Linked DNA regions of Homo sapiens: region 2 is linked to region 1. The links come from fine-mapping of genetic effects on gene expression. A gene starts in region 1. The other region holds a variant in brackets. All regions are shown on one strand. Distances are between the middles of the regions.

Region 1 (8,321 bases):
GCCCTCTTAGGCGAGTCTATTTGTCCGACATATTTGCCAACAGCCCTTTATGGGCTTGGCACAGGGAAGAGAGCGGGTGACATACTGTTCTCATGGAGGGCAGGGAGTGCTTCACGATGACCCAGGAGAAATTAAGTAGGAAGTACACACTAACTTATGAGTGTTTTTTTTCTCACAAAGGTGACAAACTGAACACAAACTAACAGACCAGTTTGAAAAATCAAGAAACATCTATATAGTGAAATTCTTTTTGTTGGGGGTGGGGGGTGGACAGAGTCTTGCTCTGTCACCCAGGCTGGAGAGCAGTAGCAGAACCACGGCTCACTACAGCCTGGAACTCCTGGCTTCAAGGGGTCCTCTGGCCTCTGGCCTCAGCCTCCCAAAGTGCTGGGACTACAGGAGCACATCAGCATGCTTGGCCTAATTATTATTATTTTTTTTTTGAGACAGAGTCTCACTGTCGCCCAGGCTGGAGTGCAGTGGTGCGGTCTCGGCTCACTGCAACCTCGACCTCCCAGGTTCAAGCGATTCTCCCACCTCGGCCTCCCAAGTAGCTGGGATTACAGGCACGTACCACCACACCCAGCTAATTTTTGTATTTTTAGTTAGAGATGGGGTTTCACCATATTGGCCAGGCTGGTCTTGAACTCCTGACAAGTGATCCACCCATCTTGGCCTCCCAAAGTGCTGGGATTCCAGGCACGACCCACCATGCCCGGCCGGGAATTCTTTAAGGGTGATGAATCATCACATGCACAGCCGTGAGAAAAACTCCCTGGCACCTGAGTGAGAGCCGCAGACAAGCCGGCCAGGGCAGTGGCCACAGCCTCCAACGCATCCCGTTCACTAGTGCAAAACAGCTGTAACGTGGAGCTTTTCTGGACAGCACCCTTTCTAGTGTCTTTACTTTCTATTTTTACATAATGTTTAAGTTTCCTGTATGTGTATTACTTTTGTAATCAAACACATTAAGGTATCTTCATTTTGGAAAAAAAGTTGATTTACCTTATTATAAAGGTATATTAAGTACCACTTAAATGTCTATATCAGCATACGCAAAACAAAACCACGGCATCAAAATTTGATACCCAAGGAGAGAAATGCCTCCTTTACAACTTACACACGATTACAACCGCCTATTAAGTTTTATGGACATGGTTACAGAATTCTTATTAAAATATGTACAATTACCTATTCAACTTCATATAACAACTTAACCTCAAAATTACTACTCAAAAAATAAAATGAGGCCTAGACAACACAGACTGTCTCACAGATGACTGTGTACACGTACATGAAATGAGCAAACTGGACTTTGTTCTTTGACCTCCTCTTTCCCAATTAGTACATTTCCATTAACTGTTAATTATAGAACTTTTGTAATGCAATTAACACACATCATTTGATAGTAGTCATAAAAAGGCTGATCTTAGTATCCACTGTAAGGGACCCCGTCATTTAAATAAGAAATGTAAGTGAGAGACTCTGTTTAGAGAGAATTTTCTAGTGGTCTTCTGAGCCTGCCAGAGAGATGAGACCTCTCAGGCAAGGGCACAGTGCAGGGACCCACAGATAGTAGGGAGTCACCTGTTAAACACTTTCAATCTTAGCTCTTCAAGAGCCAAATAAGCCACTTGGTATTATGGGACAGGCATATAAAAAGGAAAAACGTGTCTTGTTTACAGAGATTCCAAACAATGAAGACGTGGCACAGCTTAAAAATAAACACTGAAGAGAAGCACCCTACTGGGCTCCACAGAACTGACCTTAAGGGAATTATGACCCTAAGGCTGTAGAAAAACTCACAGTATCAACAGCAGAACCTGCCAACTTCACCGCGAACAAAACGGGAGCCAATGCCCATTCCAATCATTTCCTCCTTACATGAAGAAACCCCAGCACCCTCCAAGGCCCAACCGATGATCCGCACGTCCTAGACAAGCCTTTGCGAGGCTCACATATGCACATGCAACATGGGCTGGGCTGTCTGGTAACCATGGGTACGGCTGGGCAGTCAATCACAAATTATCTTATTTGTGCCCTGTCTTCTCACCACAGCACAATGAGCTCTGCTTGACATAGTCTGAATTCAATCAACTACTAATAAGGGACAGCCTCTGGTGGAAAGCCTGAAAAAATTCAAGATACGCGCTTTTCCAAAACAAGAGGTATCTTATGAAACTTGCTGAAACAAGTCTACAAGAACAGACATCTCCTCCCCATGTACACAGCAAGTAGGAAAACAAGTGTGCATTAAGCAGGGAGTTTCACAACAGGGCTGTGTCTGTCTTCCTGGGTGACACTTCTGAGATGTCTATGCCGTATTTAAAATAGTGAAATAGTCACAGACACACATACACTAACAGCAACCCAAAGGGCCACTAAAGAGCCCTAGGCTCCAGGTAAACGAGTTGGCAACACCTGATTTAAAGGAAGGAGCTGGAATAATCTCTCAAGTTCCCCAGTGAACTTGTCTCCAGGACTGGGACAGGGGCCACCTTGGTCACTGCTGTATCCCTCGTGCTAACAGTAAGCAATGAATGCTCATTTAAAAAAAGACTGTATTTACTCCTTAAAAGGCACTGCTAAGGACCTTTCTCAGAACTGTATTTCAACCAAGTCATATGTGGCCCTACGGAAACCATGGAACACGGGGTATATAGCAAAGTTATGTGAATATACCGAAAAGACGTTCCCATCTGCCTTTCCCTCCTCTAAGTCCCTGAGTACACTAGGCTCAAATCTCATTCCATCAGCAGACAGATGACACGGATATCGAAGGCCCAGGCACAAGTTAAAGAGTATTTTCAATAACTGGTAACGCAGTAAGCTACTGCTACCTGTGGCCCAAACTCTAAACTTATATATTAAAGTCCTTTATTTAGAGCAGAAAAGCCGGCCTTGACCTCCACTGTCTCAGAACCGCGAGAAGGAGCCCCGGACGCCGCAGCGGAGGCAGCACGAGCACCCCTCCCGCCGAGCGCAAGAGCGGGCCCTTTCGGCTTCCGGGGTCACTGGAAGGCAAAATGTGTCACAAATACGGCCAGTACAAACCAACGCAACAAACTATTCCACAAAAAAACTGAAAACCAGCGCGGGGAGGTAAGGACACACTCTTCAGAAAAGCGAATCCGGGCTCTTCGCGCTTCCTGCAGCGCCAGCCGCCCCTGCAGTGCCGGAATCCCCCGAAGGCACGCCAGAAGCTAAGCCGGCCACCCCGACCGCACCCAAGGCCCGGGAGGAAGCGCCGAGGTCCCCGAGAATGCCTAGGGAAACCAGCTGCGCTTACAAGCCAGCTACGCAGCCCCCGAGCCCCGGGCCGCACTCGCCCAGGCCAGCCCTGCGCTCTTCCCCGCGAGCGGCCGCCCCGACTCCCACCCTCGGAACCGTTCCAGCCGCGACCACCGAGTGCTCGCCAGTCCCCTCGACCTCACGCAGCCCACCAGGGCCGGCGTCTGAGGCCCGCGCCCCAGGCCGCGGCGGCTCTGACCGGCCCCGCCCGCTCGCCCGCCCGCCCGCCCGCTCCTTCCCTTCCGCGGCCGCCATCTTCTCGGCGGGAGCGGCCTGTGCGGGATCCGCGGCTCTCGCCAGCCGGGCTCCGATGCCGGCCCCGCCCCGCTCCCGAGGGCGGCCCAAGCGGCGGCCGGCTCTTCTACCCGGCGCCCGGGACGCCACTTACCGCAGGCCGCAGGCCTCTAGGGTCTCGCAGCCATTTCCCCGAACGCCGCGGAGTGGGCGGACGGCCACCGAGATGGCGCGGGGCTAGAGCGGCGCCCCCGCGCGGCGGGCGGAGGACGAGACCGGCCACCGAGACGCTGCGGGGCTAGAGCGGAGCCCGGGCTGCGAAGCCCGGCCCCGGACTGCGCGCATGCGCCCGTCTTTCATACCTGCACTCCGGACGCGCCCTTCGGGTCTGCACTGACAATGACTTGCTTGCATCCTTTGTGGACACCTTATTTCCCCGACTCCAAGAGTGAAAGCTGGGGCAGTGCCCTTGCGGGGATCCCTCGGAACAGCCCGGGCAGGGCGCAGGCGGAACGTGGATGCTAGCCCCGAGGGACTGCACTCCGCCAGGATTTCGCTCTTAAGACCGATAAACCCTTCAAGTCGGTGGGGATAGAAAGCTCCTGGGCTAAATTTGTAAGAGGTGTAGGGGGGCGGGGACAGGGGATAAAAGAAGAAAAGGCCCAGGTTTTCTCTTCCAGATTGTGTTTCTCAAAACGCAGGCCCCTGACGGCCTCGGCTGGGAATGGCAGCGAGGGGCGAGGTCCAGGTGTGGGCGGGGTTTCTCTCCAACTTGAAGACCCTACCTGCTGCCTCCCCACCCCAAGCTCGGCTCCAGAAACCAGGAGCGTGGGGGTGGGGGGGAGAGAAAGGAGCACAGCGAGGAAGGGAGGCGGGCACGCTGGACCTCTAGGCCCCAGGGACCTTGGCGGTGTGGTCCCAAAGCTCTGCCTCCTCCCACCATGTCAATCCTACACTCAGAACTACTGACCAGTAGCTAGAACTCAAAGAACGCATGGACATGTTTGCCCACAGGGGTTGGAGGGAAAGATTAGACACTTACTATCAAGAGAGGGGAAAGTGAGGTATGGTAGATGTCAACCTTCCATGTGGATTTTCTTCAGTTCGCTCAATAGTAACTAGAGTGACACTCTATCACCTGTCTGTCCCCAGATACTGCAGGAAAGAGACTGGGAGGGGGCAGGAGGGGCAGCTGTTGCCTCGAGGCACCATGGGCACTGGCCACTTGCTCCGAGGGCAGGGACCTGGGGGGGGTGGAGGTGGCCCCATTACTTGTTTCTGCTTCTGTGAACAGTGATACGCTACCTGGAAGCATGGACCATCTAGCCTTTGGCGTTGGCCCTGGCCAAGAGTAAAAGGGGCCCAGAGTGCCGTAAAGCTGCCCCTAATACAGAGGCTTCTGCGATGCTTCCATGGATGAACCAGGGGCTTTGAGGCAGGTGTGCTTTTTAATAATACCGCTGAAGATTACAGGGTCTGCTAGTTTCTGAGGCAGACTTAGTTTTCTTCAAAGGAATACAACGCAGCTTGTTTTTGCTGGTGTGGCCCATTAGGACCACATTAATAGAATCTGGCAGGGATGGGCTTGACAGTCTTCCATCTTGAGTGTGATCTCAGGTTGCAAAGAGGGCTTTTTGCTCTCAGACATGGGGTAGTGGGAAGCTTAGAAGACAGACGGGGTTGAGACCACCTTTAACAAGCAGTGAGATCTTGGGCAAGCTCTCTGTTAAAGGAGGGCTCACATGCTGAGGCCCAGGTGAAGACCACATGAGGCCTCCCTACAAGAGGCTCTCTCTAAATCCAACTGGTATGGGGGAACCTCAGCCCAGTCTCTTTAGCTGAGGATCTTTAAACCAGCCACAATTTGTTTCTGCAAGACGGTGAGATTTTTAAGAGATTTTAACTCTTGGGTACAGTTTCACGCTGGGCACTCAGGAGAGATAGATGGAAAGGCACTAAGGGAATAGAAAGAGTGGACAAGGCGGCTCAGGGACAAGAGAACCAAGAGGAAGAAAAAGGCAGGAAAACATGAGGAAAGGGAACCCTCACTCAGCTCACCGCAGTGCTCAGCGATACGCAGAATGCCTTCCTTCCTGCAAGTCCAGAGGATACTGGAACCTGCCTCTCGTTCTCATCTCCCCCGCCCCCCAGCAGAAGCTGGCTCGGCTGTGGAGGCCTGGCCAGACTATCCACTCTGGCCTTCCCCACCTACAAGGTGACGAAGTCAGCTTTATCCCAGCTTACCTGCCGTCACTATTCCTGGGAGCTGCCCTCCCTGGTGAGAAAGGCATTTGGAGAATCTACAGTCTGGGTATTTGAATTTGAACTCCACTAGCAAAAGAATACTTTTTCCTAACCGAATTTATTTTAAAAGTAAAACCCAAAGGAGGAAACAAACTCTTCAGTTGTTTCAATAAATTGTTCCTTAAATATCCCCAATTCACAAACAAAACCCCACAAGTAGCACCGATTTACAACAGGATGTGGCCCAGAAAGCAGGAAGGGGGCCAAGAGCGCTCCAGCAGGAAGCTTAATAGGTGGTCCATGGAGAAAAACACGATGGGTGCATCACAAATAGGTGTAAACAGTACACTTTTGTAATGTGTAGACACCAGTTTCTGCAACCCCCATGCCACGCAAAGTTTCAGGGAAAGTCTTTGAAAGTACAATCCGGAAAACTCAGCAATTCTTAAAAAAAAATGGCTTTCCGCTGTTATAAGCCTCCTTCCTAAGACTCAGGGTCCGCAGCAGAATACCCTGACCCAAAATAAAAATACTATGACAAAAATACTCCAGGAGGCAGCCGGCTTTACTTCGTTTAAAGCCGGATTTCGCTTAGTCCCGTGAAAGCGAAGGAGCACCAGCGCTTCCTGATTCCGCACAGTTCTCTCGGCAGAGACGGCCCGTCCTCTCCAAGAACCGGAAGCCGGACAGCGTCAGGACGTTTTATTCTTCTCACCTGGGATTCAGAGAGGCAGCGGCCAAGGACAGGGCCCCCGCCGAGGCCACCGGGCAGCGTCCAGGTCTCGGCCTTTGGGAGGGGAGCAGCGGGGGAGGGGCACGGGGAGGGGCGAGGGCGGGGCGCGCCTGGGCCTCGGCGCTGGGCTCCTCCTCTGCCCGCTCCGGGGGACACCCACAGGATTCTTGCAGACCTCTGCCGAGGCAGGATGGAGGCCTGCAGGGATGCACCGCGGGCCCGCGACCCGGGCGGCCGGAACATAGTTCTTTCTGGCCGGAGATCGGCCCGGTCGTGAGTCGTGTCTGTGCCAGGCCCCCCACGCTGTGCTCCAGGGCCTCAGTGCCCGGCGCGCCGGGGGCTGTATCGCCAGCCACTTGGGGCAGGAAAAAGGAATCACAAAATACAACCCTCTCCTTTACCCAGGAGGAGAACGTGGATTCCCAGAAAAAAGAAAAAGTGTATATATATATATATATGCCTACTGTTTTCTTATTGCTAACAAAAACTTCAGCCACTGTTTTGTTTTTTTTTTTTGAGAAACTGATGAATTTTCTTTACTTTTACGTTGTATAAGGCCAGCTAACTTTAACAGTTAATTTTAGATAAATCAACTCACCAATGCTAAAAGGTGTCACAATCAAATCGTCCACTACTTCCCCTCAAAGCAAACACGAAAGCACTGCCTTTGGCTCCTTTGAAGAATACTAACCAGATCTGCCAGGCGCGGTGGTTCAAGCCTGTTCCCAGCACTTAGGTAGGCCGAGGTGGGTGGATCGCCTGAGGTCCTGAGGTTAGGAGTTCAAGACCAGCCTGACCAACATGGTGAAACCCCATCTCTACTAAAAATACAAAAATTAGCCGGGCGTGGTGGCAGGCGCCTGTAATCCCAGCTACTCGGGAGGCTAAGGTAGGAGAATCGCTTGAACCCGCTGCACTCCAGCCTGGGTGACAGCGAGACTCCGTCTCAAAGAAACAAACAAACAAAAAAAAAAAAAACACAGATCTTTGTCTACCAAAGGGCAAATGCTACGTTTGTGCATCACTGAGTAACAGCACTGCCAGAAAAGGCAACTTCACAGAATTCACCCACTCAATGAATTCCGCTGAATGCTGTTTTGAGACAACCAACACAGAGGGAGAGCATGGACGATAGTGGGTAACATAAGGGGAACCGGCAAGATGGAAAAGGGCCAGGAAACAAAAGAATTCAAGGAAAAACAGAAACAGAAGTTAAACTTTGTGTTCCAACCCCAAAGACCTCTAGAAAGCTGTGGGATGTGATGGAGCTACACGTTCTATGCGGCATATGAGAATCATACCAATTTTCTGTCTTTTAGACAAAAGAATAAATGTGAAATAGGAAAAAGGGAGGGAAATGAGATGGGAGGAGGGCATCACCCCCTTTAATGCTGTACCAAATTACTATACAAACTGAATTGTTGTAATTAGAATTATGGACAGTGTCTTATCATTTGTATGTTACCAGAAACCTGTGCTATGACTTTTAACTAGAAAAACAACAAGGGATGATGGATCTTTCTTTGGTCACATTAGCCTCTGTAAGTTACTCAAGACAGCTGCAATGAACTGACAACAATATCCACAAACAAGGCAAAAGGAACTTCTCATGGCAGGGAACTGAATCTGGATGTTATTCTCAGTTCTGTCATTTTCCAGATACCTTTAGAAAGAATGAGCTGCAGTTTGTGTTGTTGTTTTCCTTGAGACAAGGTCTCACCCTGTTGCCAGGCTGGAGTGCAGTAGTGTGATCTTGGCTGTCTGCAACCTCTGCCTCCCAGGCTCAAGCAACCCTCCTGCCTCACCCTCCCGAGTAGCT
Region 2 (8,321 bases), 52 kb before region 1:
AGACAGGGTTTCACCATGTTGGTCAGGCTGGTCTTGAACTCCTGACCTCAGGTGACCCGCCCGCCTCGGCCTCCCAAAGTGCTGGGATTACAGGCGTGAGCCACCGCACCCGGCCATTGTTTTAAAGACCCCTCTTCTTAATGCCACCACAGTGCAGATTAGGTTTCAGTATGAATCTTGGAGGGATACAAACTCAGACCGCAGCAAGCAGGGTTTTTTTTCTTTCTTTCTCTCTCAAATTCTTGGAAGGTTGAGCAGGGCAGGGTCACCAGGCCTGCCGGCAACTGCTCCCCTTCCTCTCATCCTCCTGTAGCTTCTTGGACTCCTGGGCCAATTGATTTTTCTGTTCCGTGATGTGGAGTGATCAAAGCTGGTTCTGGGTTTTCTGGAGCTGGATCTTTGATTGCCTTTGATTTAAAAGCATTGGTAACCGTTTCTCACGGGAAAGAGGCGCTGATAATTCATGCAAATGAGCATCAATGGGCAAAATTCAACCAAGTGCCTCTGGAACCAAGGCTGCCATTGAACATTCTAGTAAAAATGGGGTGGAGGCTTTTGCCCAAGTGCTCTGGATAATCTGGGAAAAGAAAATGGTGAGTCAGTGCTTTATTTTATTTATTTATTTATTTATTTATTTGTTTGTTTTTGAGGCGGAGTCTTGCTCTGTCACCCAGGCTGGAGTGCAGTGGTGCGATCTCGGCTCACTGCCACCTCTGCCTCCTGGGTTCAAACGATTCTCCTACCTCAGCCACCCAAGCAGCTGGGATTACAGGCACATGCCACGATGCCTGGCTATTTTTTGTATTTTTCTGGTAGAGACAGGGTTTCACCATGTTGGCCAGGCTGGTCTCGAGCTCCTGACCTCAAGTGATCTGCCTGCCTCGGCCTCCCAAAGTGCTGGGATTACAGGTGTGAATCACCGTGCCCAGCCGAATTTTTTTTTTCTTTTTTTTTCTTTTTAGATGGAGTCTCTGTCACCCAGGCTGGAGTACGGTGGCACGATGTTGGTTCACTGCAACGTCCGCCTCCTGGGTTCAAGCGATTCTTCTGCCTCAGCCTCCCGAGTAGCTGGGATTACAGGCACGTGCCACCATGCCCAGCTAATTTTTTTAGTAGAGACGGGGTTTGGGGTTTCACCATGTGAGCCAGGATGGTCTCGATCTCCTGACCTCATGATCCCCCCGCCTCGGCCTCCCAAAATGCTGGGATTACAGGCATGAGCCACCGTGCACGGCCTTTTTTTTTTTTTTTTTTTAAATAGAGGCAAGGTTCACCATGTTGCCCAGCCTTGTCTCCAACAAGCTCAAGGGATTCACCTCCTCACAGACAGTGCTCCCACAGGCGTGAGCCACCACGCCCCACCTTATTTATTTTTATGTATCTTAACTTCCAAGGTGGATTTATTTAAAGGTTTTACAATAACTATGTCCAGGCTTTAGGCTCATGGGAAGTAAATGAGGACACCTTTTTCCCAAGAAGAATTTCTTTAAAACCAAGCACATTGCTAAATAACAACATTATATTTGGCAAACAATAATTGGCAACAAAATAAGTTTATTATTCTGCCCAAGCCAGTCCCAGATGCTGTTTCTTAACCAAGATACAAACAAATTTTGCTGTAGCAAGTCTAGACCAATTTTATCAAACATGTCTTTGGTTAGATGTCTAGTTTCATTTAACGTTTTGAAAACTCATTTGACAGCCAGTCAAGTCCCTCATCTACACCAGCTCCGTGTTGCACAAGTGGCTTGAACATACCATGTCCTGTTAGGAAGAGACTGAAGAGCTGGCTGGCTCATCTGTCGTCACACTGATGGCCCGAGCGCTGGGCAAACCCTGTTTGTTTGCAGAGAGCAGTGGCGCTGCGTCTCCACACTCACCGGCCAGAAGCCTTTTCTGCAGCGCGTCCGCCACTTCCCGAATTCTTTCATGATCGTTGCTATCTACCAGCAAAAGAAAACCCTGGGTATTCTGGAAGTAATGCTTCCAGAGAAGCCTAATTACATCTTGACCATGAACATCCCACACCATGAAACAAGTGTTCTCTTTTTGAGTCAGAGTCTCGCTCTGTCATCCAGGCTGGAGTGCAATGGCGCAATCTCAGCTCACTACAACTTCCACCTCCCGGGTTCAAGCAATTCTCCTGCCTCGGCCTCCCGAGTAGCTGGGATTACAGGAGCCCACCACTATGCCTGGCTAATTTTTGTATATTTAGTAGAGACAGGGTTCCACCATATTGGCCAGGCTGGTCTTGAACTCCTGACCTTGTGATCTGCCTGCCTCGGCCTCCCAAAGTGCTGGGATTATAGGCATGAGCTACCGTGCCTGGCCCAAAACAAGTGTTCTTATATTCTACTCTTTCCATGTTAAAACCAATGGCAGGAACTGTGGTGAGTACCTCCCCTAACTTCAGTTTATACACAATGTATAGGCAGCATCCAATCGAACCGTCCAAATGTGCATCTGCTTCTTGCTGAAGAGGCGGGAGAAGAGAGAGGAGATGGCGGGGACCATGGGTTCGTGGCACTTGTGATGGGCAGAAGCAGAGGGGCTTGGGGGGCCCTGTGCTTTCTTCTTTCATGCTTCCAGGCAAATTGAACAAGGGGGAAGAGAAAGAACTGAGGAAGAAAGAGGGAGGCAGGGACATCTCACTGGCCCATGTGCTGGTGAAGCTGTAGACAGGAATTAGCAGGACGAGGACCTGCTGGTGATGGACACAGCAGCTCCAGCTCTCGATGCTTTAAATGCCTGGCTTGGAGTCTGAAAAAGGAACCTGAAAGCCTCTATGACTGCCTTAAAGTAAGTCCTTATCTCCTGTAGCCATGGGGCTGAGATTTCTGCAAAGCAAACCTGAAGCCTAGTCTCCTGGATGATTTAATTACAGCCTAAACTGCAGTTTCGACTTTGCAGTGCCTCTTTTGTTAAAGTTAGGGAAGTTGGGAAAGAATGGGAACCTGACGTTGCAATGGGGGCATGTGGGCGGCAAGCCACCCAGGTGCCGAGGCAAGAGACCGAGGGCACGAGCTGTTCCAGTGTAATAAAATATATAAAACAACAAGAGTTATACCAGATACAGATCATAGACATGATTATATATGAATATCTTTCATCATTAGTTTGTAGCAATTACTCTTTATAATGCTTGCTCTATAATCATAATCTAGGAAAAACCAGGCCA[TAC/T]AGAGACAGGAGCTGAGGGGACATGGTGAGAAGTGACCAGAAGACAAGAGTGTGAACCTTCTGTTACGCCCGGACAGGGCCACCAGAGGGCTCCTTGGTCTAGCGGTGACGCCAGCGTCTGGGAAGACGCCCGTTGCCAGACGGACCGTGGTCTAGCGGTAGCCTCAGTGTCACGGAAAAACACCCGCTACTTAGCAGACGGGGAAAGGGAGTCTCCCTTTCCCCGGGGGAGTTTAGAGAAGACTCTACTCCTCCACCTCTTGCGGAGGGCCTGACATCAGTCAGGCCCGCCCGCAGTTATCCGGAGGCCTAACCGTCTCCCTGTGATGCTGTGCTTCAGTGGTCACGCTCCTAGTCCGCCTTCATGTTCCATCCTGTGCACCTGGCTCTGCCTTCTAGATAGCAGCAGCAAATTAGTGAAAGTACTGAAAGTCTCTGATAAGCAGAAATAATGGCGTAAGCGGTCTCTGTCTCTCCCTCTCTGTCTCTGCCTTGGCTGCCAGGCAGGGGAGGGCCCCCTGTCCAGTGGACACGTGACCCACGTGACCTTACCTATCACTGGAGATGACTCACACTCCTTACCCTGCCCCTTTTGCTTTGTATCCAATAAATAACAATGCAGCCAGACATTCGGAGCCACTACCGGTCTCTGCGCATTGGTGGTAGTGGTTCCCCGGGCCCAGCTGTCTTTTCTTTTATCTCTTTGTCTTGTGTCTTTATTTTTACACTCTCTCGTCACCACACACAGGGAGAAGCCCACCGACCCTGTGGGGCTGGTCCCTACAGGGGCATGTGGGAAGATCCCAGTGAAGCTGAGGACCACGAGCCCTGCAAGTCCATTGGGATCTGCCGGTGAACTCCGCAGGTCGTCTTTGAAGGCACATGTGGCTCTTCTGCCACTGCCTGGGGAGCTGAGACCCCTTTGCCCAAAGACCCTCAAGTGCCTTCCCTAGGGAGCTGCCCTGTAAGGTGCCGCCGTCCTGCCCGGGACTCACCACCACCTCTGTGTTCCTTCTAGACCTAGATCCAGACTGGAGTTCCAGCAGGCCCCAAAAGAGAAAGTGTGAGGTGTGGCCTACAAATATGTTTCCCTACGAAAACCTGCGGAAAATGTGTGGAAATCGATGTTGAGAGTGCGGGATCTGGGTGGGAGGAATATAAGCTTGCGTAAGTGGACAGGGACTCAGATACGAGATTCTGGATTTGATGCGTTGGAGGGAACGGCTGGGAGTGACCCACCCCCCACCCCCATTTTCTTCATCAGTCACCGAAACTTTCGCCCCACAGGTAGCTGACCCTAAATTCAGTGAAATCCAGAACTTTCCTGGCACACTGGAGAGGACGGCAGAACGCTGGGATGGATTTATCGTGCAAGACCAGCTTGATGTCCTTAGGGCTTGGAGGTCACCCCTTCACGAGGATTGTGAGGAGTGAATTCATCGGGGAGCCCCGCACCCTCACCTGCACCCTCACCCCCACCCCCACCCCCACCCCCACCCCCACCCGCACCCCCACCCCCACCCTCCCCCCCACCCGCACCCGCACCCCCACCCTCACCCGCACCCCCACCCTCACCCCCACCCTCACCCCCACCCTCACCCCCACCCCCACCCTCACCCGCACCCCCACTCGCACCCGCACCCCCACCCTCACCCGCACCCCCACCCTCACCCCCACCCTCACCCCCACCCTCACCCCCACCCCCACCCTCACCCGCACCCTCACTCGCACCGCACCCTCACTGGCACCCTCACCCACACCGCACCCACACCCACATCGGGGAAGAGCTCCATGATCATTCTTTTCTGTAGGCGAAAAACTGCGGCGGGAACTGCTGCCATGCAGCTGGGCTCCCAATGCAGTGGGGATGGTGGCGCTCTGGGCTGGCGGGAGCTATCCTGCCGGACGTGATTCCCAGCACAGCCGTGAGCGGCAGCAGAGGCGCAGTCATCTGACCCACATAGTTCCTGCGTTGCCTGATGGGCGCAGCTTCCCTAGAACTGAAAAAAAAGGACATCCTGCCAAAGGCGTCCCCGTTCTGTGCTGGCAGAAAGGCTGTAGGTCCGAGAGCAGGAGTCCTGCGCTCTGACTGGAAGCCCCAACACAGAGTCCGGGGCCCTCGGCCAAGTTCCAGACTCTGGACAGACCCAGGCCCCTGGAATGAAGGACAGACTGAGTCTCCGAGAGGAAGGGGCCCTGCTAAATGCCAAAAACATGCAGCTAATCTTCCCACCGCCCCTTCCCAAAGGAATCTTCCTCTGTTTATCAGGAGTCTGTGCAACGGGAATGGGAAATAATCAGGCCTTTTAGGAATTACTAGACCCTGGAGCTGAAAGGACATTCATTTCAGGAGGCCCAGATGCCAGGCAGAGCTGTGGTTTATGGAGGCGGACGACGGAGTTGGTTCAGGTTTTCCTCTGAGGAGGCCCAGTGAGCCTCCCGGCCTCCTGTGGAACAGACATACTCAGCCAATGGCAGGGTCCCCACATGGTCCCCTGAGCCCTGGAGTGAGGTCGGCTGGGAGCAGCAGAGCAGCCGGAGGAGGAGGAGCAAACCCCAGGCCACAGCGTGCTCCTGGAGGGACCCCGATTTTGTCAAAATTTAGATGCAGAGAGAAAAAGATTAAGGAAAATACCAAATTAACGACAGCAGTGACTGCTGGGTGTGACGTTTTGGGCAGGCTTGGTTCTTCTCCCTTTTGCTAGGTGTCCCACAGGAAGACGGACCCAGCATGTGGGGACCTGCACCCAGCCAGTCTCGCCCTGGCTCAGCCTGTTCACTGGCGCTGCCCTGCCACTGAGGGCTGAGGTCACTGTCCGTCTGGGCATGTCTCATGTGGTCTTTCCTTTTCTCCCCTTCTGGTTAGGCCCCCTGAGCTCAGCCACAGCCACGATCCCCACTGCCGCCTCCTCCCTGGGACTCGCTGATGCCTGGTGTGGGGAGGGTGCTGGCTGCTTTGGGTGTTACCCCCCGTTGGAGGCCCCCGTGCCGAGTTCTCGAGTGAGATGGCTCTTTCCATTTTCCCCCGACAGCTGCCTCGGCCTCTGTGCTAGAACAGGGAGCTACAGCTCAGTGACCCTGTGGTGCCTTGTGGGCCTGTGGGTGCCAGGGCTCCGGGGCCTGGGCCTTTTCCTGCTTGGTGTGGCTGACCGGGACGCGGCCGACCCCAGGGGCATACTGGAGCTAGGTCTTCCTCGCCATGTTTCCACAGTGAGCCCTTTGGCTGCACAGGTCACGGTCTGGAGCTGTTGGAGGAGGCTGCTCAGAGCTGTTGCTGCCCCACCAGACACTTGGCCAAGGGGCCTGCACCGGTCTGCGCGGGAACGTCCCACCGGCGTCTGCTCATGGCTGGGCTGTGGACCCATACGCTTGTTCGGAAGCCAAGCTCTGGCCCACAGGCGACCAGAGGAAGCTCGCAGGCCAGGCGCCAGCTCCCCGAGCCTGTCCCTGCAGCCGCGCTGTGTGCAGGCACGTGGGCCACCGCGTCTCCTCCACTGGCACTGCTGGGTCTGGGCCGCCAAGCCCACCTGCCCACCTGCATCCTCAGCAGCAGCACGCCCCGCAGTCGGCGGGTGCACACTCTGCTGCAGCCTGGATGGGCTGGGGCCTCGGGGCTCACTCCCCAACCATGAGACTCCTTCACCGCAGTTGAGGCTGTTGCAGTGGTCTCGGGCTCCCACTCAGCCCCAGGAGAGGGTCTGAAGGGGGTGAGTCCCTCCTCCCGACCTTCCTGCCCATCGTCTCCAGAGCTGGATGGTGCTGGGTCCCCACAGGGAGCGAGACAGCTGCCCCGTGACGGAAGGATGTGGGGACCCGCACCCGGCCGGTCTCACCCTGGGCTCAGCATGAGTTCAGGGAGGGGTCCAAAGGGCACTCCTGCCCACGCCCAGGCAAACCAGCAACAAGAAACTGGGTGGCCAGGGCGTCCGTGCACGACCCCAAACTTCTCCGCGTTAGAAAAAGGCTGATGAAGACCCGAGACAGAAACTTCCTGTAGCTGTTTATTCTACTGCGAGTAACAAAACCTAGGTCGTTCCATGTTCTCATGTACAGTGATATAAGCCTCCGCAATATAAAATACAATGTACAGGAATCTCTATCAAGTAAACTAAAGAAACACACTTGATTTTTACATTTGTGTATTTAAATTAGAAAAATTTGCTTTATATGTTAAACAAACAAAACCTTCTCATCGTACTAGATGTTGGAACGTGACACCTACTTTAATGTAATTTAACCTATGGACACTTGGCTTTCAACACCAAACATCTCAAACTGATACATTCTCAATGTTTTCTTAACTTAAAAAATCTGTGCTATAAAGTGAAAAATCTGTAGTGACGTACAATGGAATAACAGACTCCAAAGAACAAGTGAAGTTCTTTAATTTTACATCTGTAAAAGTTTATGAAAATATAAAAAATTATCAAAGTGTATTTGTACAAATAAATTAGCCAGATTTTTTTACTTCACACTTCAGAAGTACTCGAAAAATACACGACAAGCAAGAGACTGTTTCACAGTGAACAGCTTCCTGTCTCATTTGCAGTTCTTGAGCTAGTGATCACTAGTTCCCGTCTCAGACTTTACACAAGTCTTGTTCCACGTTCAAGGACAAACTTTTACATGTATCGTCTGACAAATACCAGTTTGGGGCCGAGCGTACTTTTCCCGGGATACAGAAGAACTGCTCAGAAGGCGAAACTGGACCAACAAAACTCCTGATTATTCAAATCAAGGACTCCTCCCTGCCCCCAAAGTACACTTAATTGGTTTGTTACTTTTTTTAGGCTGGTAAAACTTAACATTTTTCAATAAATTGTTATTTAAAATGCAACAATTATACTAGGACAGATGTTGCTTTAAATCATGTTTTGGAAAAAATTGATAAGGTGATATATAAAATCTGAGCACGCTAAGAAATGTGTTTCTGTTTCCCAGTTGAAAATTGTAATTCCAATTTTATGACAAAAGAAAGATGCATTTGTAAGGTTTGTGTTTCTCAAGACTCCAGATACAAGCTACTAAGACTTCTCCCGTAGCCGCAGGGTGGACGCCTGCAGGTCACGCCCACACCGGCCTCCGGGGCGGCGGCTAAGACCTGTAAAAGCAGCTTTTGGAAACACAAACGGATGAGATGT

Alleles and levels. Alleles are on the strand shown, and positions count from the first base shown. SD is a standard deviation of normalised expression in the study named.
As copies of T replace TAC in region 2, the expression in gastroesophageal junction of the gene that starts at base 3,753 in region 1 goes down (small effect, 0.27 SD a copy in GTEx).

The links. PIP is the estimated chance that this variant, and not a neighbour inherited with it, causes the effect. A credible set is the group of variants that fine-mapping cannot tell apart.
Region 2: its variant is the best candidate, but not a certain one, in a credible set for the expression of DIDO1 in gastroesophageal junction (GTEx, PIP 0.65).

Annotation. Positions count from the first base shown.
Region 1 is chr20:62,922,753-62,931,073 of GRCh38, forward strand. DIDO1 (death inducer-obliterator 1) reads right to left here and starts at 3,753. Exons shown (of 16, transcript NM_001193369.2): 1 at 3,687-3,753. RefSeq lists enhancers at 1-236, 2,629-3,242, 2,851-2,900, 3,243-3,856, 4,739-5,587 and 1 more and silencers at 3,341-3,430, 3,501-3,940, 6,584-6,633.
Region 2 is chr20:62,870,575-62,878,895 of GRCh38, forward strand. DIDO1 (death inducer-obliterator 1) reads right to left here. Exons shown (of 16, transcript NM_001193369.2): 16 at 7,169-8,321. It overlaps LOC105372717 (a long non-coding RNA gene), which reads left to right. Exons shown (of 4, transcript XR_936989.4): 2 at 4,199-4,347; 3 at 4,468-4,603; 4 at 6,213-8,321. It also overlaps the pseudogene ARF4P2. Among named protein-coding and RNA genes, the nearest start is that of SNORA117, 8.2 kb to the right of the region's middle. RefSeq lists enhancers at 4,760-5,414, 5,415-6,068. The variant TAC/T (reference allele first, on the strand shown) is at 3,179.